2 separate regions of the Homo sapiens genome follow, and region 2 is linked to region 1. The links come from fine-mapping of genetic effects on gene expression. A gene starts in region 1. The other region holds a variant in brackets. All regions are shown on one strand. Distances are from middle to middle. Region 1 holds the start of ATP6V1G1 (ATPase H+ transporting V1 subunit G1). Region 2 holds the start of LOC105376229 (a long non-coding RNA gene).

Region 1 (4,372 bases):
CAAGAACAAAAGGCTTCTTCTCATTCCCAACACCCTCAAAGAAAGCTTTCCAAGTACCACACAACCCCTAACTGCACAAGTAGAGGAGACATGCTTGAAATCTAGTTGGATGTCAGATAGAATAACTCCTATACTAGGAGAAACACCAAGGAATTACTAAGATCAGTATCTTCGCCTTGCATGGAAAAAGAGGCTTCTGAGTCCCAACTATGTTGCTTCCCAGGGTATGGATAAATCATTTCTCTCTGAGCCTCATTTTTACTATCTGTAAAATAGGGATAGAAGCATCTTTCTCACCAGACGGGAAACTGGATACATAAAGTTAAATGAGACATAGTTTCTGTTCTCCAGAAGCTTAGTCTAGTGACTGAGCCATATAAACAAACAGGTTATTGCACGGCAGTGGCAGAAATCAGCACTTGGGAGGGACTCCAAGCCTAGTCCGGGGGACAAGCATGAGTCAGGAAAGGCTTCCCGGGAAGAAGTGTTTCCTAAATTGAGGTCTGATGGAAGACTAAGGGTCAGAGAACAAAGGGGAGGAGAATTGGAAAAGGCTTCTCACGTCAGAAGAAACAGCGTGTGCAAAAACCTGCAGGTGAAAGACATCATGCTGCTTCTGAGGGACCACAACGATTCAGTATAGCTGGAGGAAAGCACCAGGCCTGACCCACAAGAGCCTCCCCAACTTCATTAAGGAATTTGAGCTTTCTTCTGCAGGAACTAAACGTCTGACTACAAAGGCGGTAGGGAAATCATATCTGCACTTATTTATTTATTTTGTTCCTTACCAGCAGGAAGTCACATATTTGCATTTTAGAAGGATGACTGATTGCAGAGAGGAGAATGGATTGACTGGAGGGGACCAGAACGGGTTCTTCCACTCCCCAGTCTAGATTAAACTCACCTGTTAAATTCTTTAGCAACCTTACATTTCTCCACTCCAGCCCTCATCTCTCCTGCAATTAATTAACTGACCCAATACCTGCTTCCTTCACTGCGACACTGAATGCCACGTTAGGGGAGACAACTGATGCACTGGGCACTGCGCTTGCCACATATTAGACAGAAACACACACACACACACACACACACACACACTGCGCTTGCCACATGTTAGAAACACACACACACTGCGCTTGCCACATATCAGAAACACACACACGCACACACGCCAACGATTTAGACAACTACAGTACCTTTAGAGAAACTGGTGTCCTGGACTAAGACGCTGGTAGTAGACATGGGGGAAAAAGTGAAAGATACGCAAGCCTTGGCGACTGACTAAATGAGGGAGGGAGAAGAGGCAAGCAGGACTCCAGGTTTCTAGACCAAGCAACTGTGTGGATGCTGGCTCCCTTCACCGAGACTGACCACCCCAGAGCGGTTAAGTGGGAGAGAAGAAGAACAAAGAGCTCCGTTTGGAGAGCCCATTTCACATGCCTCCAGGCCCCAAGGACGGTAACCCATTATTGTTTCCACGCCCAATTTACCATCTCACATCGTGGCTTCCAGGCGATCCGCAAGCCTTCCAGAGCCTCAGCTCCTCAAAGCTTCGAAACACACAACCTTCCGCGACTATACGCACGCCCGCACCCCGCAGTTTTTCGGGCCTAATCTACCCACCACCTGAGGCCCAGCGGTCTTTCTTCGACTCGCGCCACGCCGGGCAGCCCCACCCTGAAACTCACTTTTGCGGGCCTCGGACACCTTCTCGGCTGCCCGCTTCTCGGCCTGCAGCAGCTGCTGAATCCCCTGAGACTGACTAGCCATGGCGGCAGCGATTCTGAGAGCAAGGCAAGCGGCCTAAGGCACCTCGAAGGCCCCTTGGGTCAGCTGACACAGCCGCCCACAATCTGCGCTTGCTCCTTGCGCCTGCGCTTCGCCCCCGTTGTCACGTGACCGCACAGCGTAGCATCAGCTGACCGCTCTTGAACTTCTGTGATTCGGCAGAAATGGGGCGGGGCGGGGCTGAGGAGAAAGGAGCGGAGCTCCTCGACTGCGCCTGTGCAGTCTACTGCGCAGTACTGCCCTCTACTCCTCTGTCCGCTCCCTGGCCTCTTTTAATGGCTACCCTGTCGCTGGTTCACTCTGTAGCCGCCCTGCCACGTATAGTGTCTGTTTGCAGTATGCTCAACGTCAAGAGAGGAGGGGCCAAGTCAAATCACTTTCCTCCTACTCTCCACACTGCTCTACTCACTCCCTTTCTGGGACTTTCTTTGGCACTCAAAATTTTATCGGGGTAGTTCAGGAAGATTCTTGCCAGTTCCGGGGATAGAGTCTTGGGTTGCCAGTTAGGAGACTCGGGATCAAGTCTGCCGCTAACCTGTGTGATTTTGGACAGGTCGCTATCCTTTTCTGAACCCGAGTTCAGGAATGGACTGGACTGTTTCCCATAAATATTTGATGAAAGCCTGCTGTGATCCTAGTCCACTGTTGATATTGAGGACATAGCAGAGAGCAGGGCAAACAAGGTCCCGGCGGAGCTCACAGTTTATGGACACAGACAGATTAATTAAAATAAATAGACAATTACAAACTGTGATAAAGTCATGAAGGAAAAATGCAGGGTGCCGTAAGAAGGAACCTTTAGTAAGGGGAGAGGAATATGGAGGTGTCTCTGAATGCTGTACCAAGGAAGTGGTGTTTAAGATCTGAAGGCCAGGCGCAGTGGCTCACGAGCCTGTAATCCCAGCACTTTGAGAGGCCGAGGCGGGTGGATCACTTCAGGTGAGGAGTTCGAGACCAGCCTGGCCGACGTGGTGAAACCCCGTCTTTACTAAAAATACAAAAATTAGCCGGGCGTGGTGGCGCGCGCCTGTAATCGCAGCTACTCAGTAGGCTGAGGCACGAGAATCGCTTGAACCCGGGAGGCGGAGGCTGCAGTGAGCCGAGATCGTGACGCTGCACTGCAGCCAGGGCGACAGAGCAAGACTGTCTCAAAAAAATTAAAATTAAAAAATTAAAATAGGCCAATCGCGGTGGCTCACGCCTATAATCCCAGCACTTTGGGAGGCTGAGGCCGGCGGATCACGAGATCAGGAATTTGAGACCAGCCTGACCAATGTGGTGAAACCTGGTCTCTACTAAAAATACAAAAATCCGGGCATGGTGGCGCGCGCCTGTAATCCCAGCTACTCAGGAGGCTGAGGTAGGAGAATCGCCTGAACCTGGGAGCTGAGGTTGCAGTGAGCCGAGATCGTGTCACTACACTCCAGCCTGGGTGACAGAGCAGACTCCATCTCAAAAATAAATAAGTAAATAAATAATAAAAATTCTCAAAAAATAAAATAAGATCTGAAGAATAAGAAGTTACCCAGGAAAGGATAGTGGGGGATGGAGGCGGTGGGAGATGATTAGGGGAAAAGGACCAGCGTGTGCGGAGTTGGGGAGGGGGTCAACTTGGCACGGAGACATCTCCCCATCCACCGTGAATAGGGAAATAGGAAGCCATGGTTTGAGTTTACAGTATGACGGGCCCTTGTCATCGCTTCACTCACTCCTCACATTAACTTTGATACTGTTACTAATTCCATTTTATATTGACCAAACTGAAGCTCAGAGAGTCGCAAAGTCTCTGAGCCAAAAGTCATGCCCCTATTAACACACAGACAGGGTATTTGAATCCAGTCAGGGCTGCAGAGTAAAACCTCTGAGCTACTGCTTTTCTGCCGGAATCCTCTGGGCTGAGGAAAGGACCAGGTGACCTCTTAGAGTCCACTGAGTGCTGAGAACATAAAATAATGCCAGAATTTTTCTTGATACAAAGATTCTTCACTCCAGGAGCTGGATTCATGGCTCAGGACATTTTCATTTGATTGACGTGGTGGGGTTGGAAAGAACAGAATTTCTATCCTTTTCTGATGTGAGAAACAGGACTGGAAAGAGTTTTGAAGATAAAACAGAATAGAGCACATGGGCCCACATGTCTCCTGCCTGAGTTACTATATTCCTTAAAGGATAAATTACACTAATCCTTGCCTCTTTTACACATAAGATAACATCTGACAGAGTTAGTGATTATACTTCTGCAAATGTACCTTATTTCTTTTTCTTTTTTCTTTTTTTTTTTTTCTTTAGATATTCTGTAGCCCAGGCTGGAGTGCAGTGGCGCGATTTCGGCTCACTGCAACCTCCGCCTCCCGGGTTCAAGCGATTCTCCTGCCTCAGCCTCTCGAGTACCTGGGATTACAGGTGCCTACCACTGTGCCTGGCTAATTTTTTTTGTAGTTTTAGTAGAGATGGGGTTTCCCCATCTTGGCCAAGCTGGTCTTAAACTCCTGACCTCGTGATCCACCAGCTTCGGCCTTCCAAAGTGCTGGGATTACAGGTGTGAGCCACCCCGACCAGCCAGTTAAAGTACATTTTAATAAAG
Region 2 (4,392 bases), 21 kb after region 1:
AGAAAGTTCTATATTTGTCTCCGCTAGATGTTCTAAGGTCATAGACCCACAAATCCAGCCTTAAAAGCAAAATTATCTTTGTGTAATTCTTTGATGAATAAGGCTACTTTAATATTGTTTAAATTTTTTTTTTGTAGTGATGGAGTCTTGCTATGTTACTCAGGCTAGTCTCAAACTCCTGAGCTCAAGCAGTTCTCCTGCCTCAGCCTCCCAAAGTGTTGGGATTATAGATGTGAGCCACTGCACCTAGCCAGTAAAAAATTGTTTTAAAAAAGAACATGAATATATGTTTTTAATTTAAAAATAATAATTATATCTAATTCAGACATTATTTAAAGGTGGTTTCAAAATATAGATTTAAGAAGAAAATAAAAACAAGGCAAAGAAATCAATAAGTAGGAAGAGACATGCAAAGAAAATTATAAATATGAGAAGGTATCTTTGGTAAGAAAGATGAAAAAGATACATAACTTTGTATGAGAAAGAATCTTGTGTGGTAAAAATGATAAAGAAAAAGAAAAGCAAATTTTTGTCCTAAGGTAGAATAATTATTTGTTCCAATATTAAAAAAGAAAGTCTAAAACAAAATTAGGCCTAAGCAAGCCATAAGAGGTTTGAGCAACTTGCAAAAGGTTTGTGAAACATGAATCTTATGAAATAAATTTTGTATGTAATCAAGTTGGCTAAATTTAGAAGGAAATTGTTTATAAATTTTTCTGAAAATTGAATATACTGATACAAAACCCAAAACTAGTTCTCTATGTTTAAAGCAGCAAGGGTTTCCTGGAGTATCATTGCTCTTAGTTAAAAAAAAAATTACCACAGGTTTTGGTTTTTAATTCTGAAATCTGGCTGGATGTGGTGACTCACACCTGTAATCCTGGTGCTTTGGGAGGCCGAGGCAGGAGGATTGCTTGAGGCCATGAGTTTGAGACCAGCTTAGACAATATCATGAGACCCCAATCTCTACCAAAAAAAATTAAAAATTAGCCAGGTATGATGGTGCACACTTTTAGTTCCTCCCCCACCCCCCAACCTTCTCAGGAGGCTGAGGTGGGAGGATCAGTTGAGCTCAGGAGTTTGAGTCTGCAGTGAGCTATGATGGTACCACTGTACTCCAGCCTGGGCAACATAATAAGACCCTATCTCTAAAAAAACAAACAAACAAAAACCCTGAAATCTGATTCTTTAAATTTTTTACCATCTTCTGAACTATAACCTCTTCCTGTTTTATGGTTTCTGTTTAATTTCCCTAATTCTAGGTTTAGAATGCTATCTTTTAAATTAGTAAGTTACTTTCTCAAAATAGAGTCTTTCTCTTGAAGATTTTCAGATTTATGTCTCAGAAGCTCAACTTCTGCTGCACCTCATTGCACATGATTTGCAGGTCATACACCATTGCCTTCTGCTCTTCCTCCTTCTCCCCTTAAGAAGGCACACTTTTTTTTTTTTTTTTTGAGACGGATTCTCACTCCGTCACCCAGGCTGAAGTGTAATGGCATGGTCTTGGCTCACTGCAACCTCCGCCTCCTGGGTTCAAGCGATTCTCCTGCCTCAGCCTCCCGAGTAGCTGGGACTACAGGTGCATGACACCACACCCGGCTAATTTTTGTATTTTTAACAGAGACGGGGTTTCACTGTGTTGGCCAGGCTGGTCTCGAACTCCTGACCTCGTGATCCACCTGCCTCGGCCTCCCAAAGTGCTGGAATTACAGGCATGAACCACCGTACCCGGCCACACTTTTTTTTTTTCTTAATCAACTTAATGACTCACTCCCTTGACATTTTGGTAAGCTTCTGCATTTATTTTCTCTGGTTCTAACTCTGCTGTTGAGGCCTAATGCTGATATGTTTGTCTTAAAGGTCTAGAAAAGCAATGTTTTCCTCCAAGAATAACTTGATTCTGTGCTGTTGGCTTTTCTTGAAATGTCTGAATTATTCCATGTAACAAGGAAACTTAATGTGCTTTCACTTTTTCTAAGAGCCATATGTTTCCCTGCTCAAGGTACTTATTTTTTTTGTTTACTTCTTCTATAATATAGTGTATACTCATAACCTTGGACACACACTCATCCAGTGTCAATTTGAATTCAAGTACCTTTTCATTAGGTTAGATTTTCAGATTATCTAAAAGGACTTCCTATAAGAAGCAATTACACTGCAGGAGTATTTATTTTTTGGTAATTGGTCTAGGAAACAAAGATTCTGTGTTTTATCAAGGTAATTTCCTGTGCTTCATGCTGTCTTTATTGGTTTTTTGTTGTTGTCGTTGTTGTTGT[T/C]TTTGAGACAGAGTCTAGCTCTGTTGCCAGGCTGGGGTGCGGTGGCGTGATCTTGGCTCACTGCAACCTCCACCTACCGGGTTCAGACGATTCTCCTGCATCAGCCTCCCGAGTAGCTGGGACTACAGGTGTGTGCCACCACACCCGGCTAATTTTTGTATTTTTAGTAGAGACGGGGTTTCACCATGTCGGCCAGGATGGTCTTGATCTCTTGACCTCGTGATCCACCCACCTCAGCCTCCCAAAGTGCTGGGATTACAGGCGTGAGCTGCTGCACCCGGCCAGGTTTTTGATTACTTAGGAAAACTGAGTCTTTAGCCTTTTTTTTTTTTTAATAAAACATACATGCAACTTTCTGCATTTGCCTTTGGAATTTTTATTCTTTAAGATAGGGTCTCACTATGTTGTCCAGTCTGGCCTGAGACTTCTACACTTAAGGGATCCTCCCACCTCATTCTTCCAAGTTGCTGGGACTACAGGTGCACACCATCATGCTCAGCTTACTTTTAAAATCTTCAGTCACGATCCTTTTGTAGTTCATAAGGATGATGACTGAGTGTTCACACTCGTGTGTGAGATGTGCCACCCTCAGACCTTGAAATCTTCAGTCACTCTTGTTAAGTGAACAACTATTATTTCACTATGATCTGCAATTCTGTTTTAATTAAATGTTTTATACTTTTTGACATATTTGGCCAGCTTTCTCAATATCAGAGTTCTAAATGAAGTCTTTTCAACCTAGAATTATCTTTGAGATTTTCTAGTTGGGCTCCTGGAGAGCCTCAAACAATGTATTTTTCAGCTTGTAGAGCTGTTAAACTAATTAGGCTTGTTTGATGTATTGAGTTGTATGAGAAGCGTTGGAGGCACAGATGGGATCAAATAACAAAGTGACACTAAGTCTTCTCTAAGTTATATTTATATGGCTATGTTATTGATGTGAAAGATCTAAAAATTATGTAAAATTTATAAATGTTTGATGGTCCTAATGTGATACTGTTAGTCATTTTTCTGGTTGTTGTCTTAAAATGCTGTATGCAATAAACATAACTGAGTTTCCTTGTCAATTGCTGAACTCTCATCAGATTTTTAACCATGGCTGTTTTAAGCCTCTGTCTTCCACAGTTTTAATTCTTCTTTAAATGCATCTGCAATCAGATTCATGGAAAAGACTCTGGCAAGTACTCCTGAATATGGGTTTCTGATAAGTTTAAGATCAATGGACTAAATAAAGATATTCAGGACCCCCATGAAGAAACTGATAAATTCATGAAACTGACAACTAAGATTAAACAGAACAAAAATTAATTACATGAGATTAAATATCTAATGAAGACAGATATTTGAAACATTGTTGGTTTTTTACTTACATGTTTTGTTTTCCAGATTTAAGGAGACTTTCTCTCTCAAGATATCTATAGTTTACAACAATTTGGTAAAGTATACTTTTGTGAACAAAACTGGCAACACTTACTTTTTCTCTGTCCCTCCAAAATTTGGAAACTATTTGTGAGTATGCTTAATTTTTATGGCAATGAAGTTGTCTGCATAAGTTTAATTAGAAGCTGCTTTTTAAATAACAAGGTATAGTTGGAAACATTGGTTACGTTACCAGGCTTTTAAATGGAATGTCATATTTTAAGTTATTTATAGGTATAGCAGAAAAAGTCTGAAGTCTGCCGTAGATTAGCTTTCTAGCCTTGAGAAATTTTTAAAAGTCAAATCTGAGATTCCTATGTGGTCAATTACTATTTCTGCTGTGCTTGTGTGAATTTATCAGGCCAAATTTGATAAAACACAAATAACAACAAATTAGTCTTACTCGGATTATCTTTGGTAGAAATCAGAATGACTGTAGAAAGAAAAATCGTGTTTCTATGTTTCTGAAGAAAAGCTAGACTATACCTGTTATTAGATTGTAACCCTGTGTGGGGTATTTTTGTTTGTTTGTTTGAGTTTTTTTATTTACCTGTGGATTGAACTGGATCTTAAATTCTTCTAGGTTCCTCCAATCCACTTTTCTCCCATGGAATTACTAAGAATGGGAACTGCTCTTTCCTGAAGCCCTGTAAGCTGAAGTTAGACAACTTGATGTAAATTTCAAGGGTCAAGA

Evidence for each region. PIP is the estimated chance that this variant, and not a neighbour inherited with it, causes the effect. A credible set is the group of variants that fine-mapping cannot tell apart.
Region 2: its variant is the best candidate, but not a certain one, in a credible set for the expression of ATP6V1G1 in whole blood (INTERVAL, PIP 0.70).

What each region holds. Positions count from the first base shown.
Region 1 is chr9:114,585,237-114,589,608 of GRCh38, reverse strand. It overlaps ATP6V1G1 (ATPase H+ transporting V1 subunit G1), which reads right to left and starts at 1,840. Exons shown (of 3, transcript NM_004888.4): 1 at 1,689-1,840. The coding sequence starts at 1,770. RefSeq lists enhancers at 1,405-1,914, 2,025-2,104, 1,743-2,561, 2,562-3,381.
Region 2 is chr9:114,563,764-114,568,155 of GRCh38, reverse strand. LOC105376229 (a long non-coding RNA gene) reads left to right here and starts at 1,713. Exons shown (of 3, transcript XR_930260.2): 1 at 1,713-1,789; 2 at 3,666-3,788. It overlaps LOC124902352 (small nucleolar RNA U13), which reads left to right and starts at 2,804; the gene lies at 2,804-2,906. The variant T/C (reference allele first, on the strand shown) is at 2,280.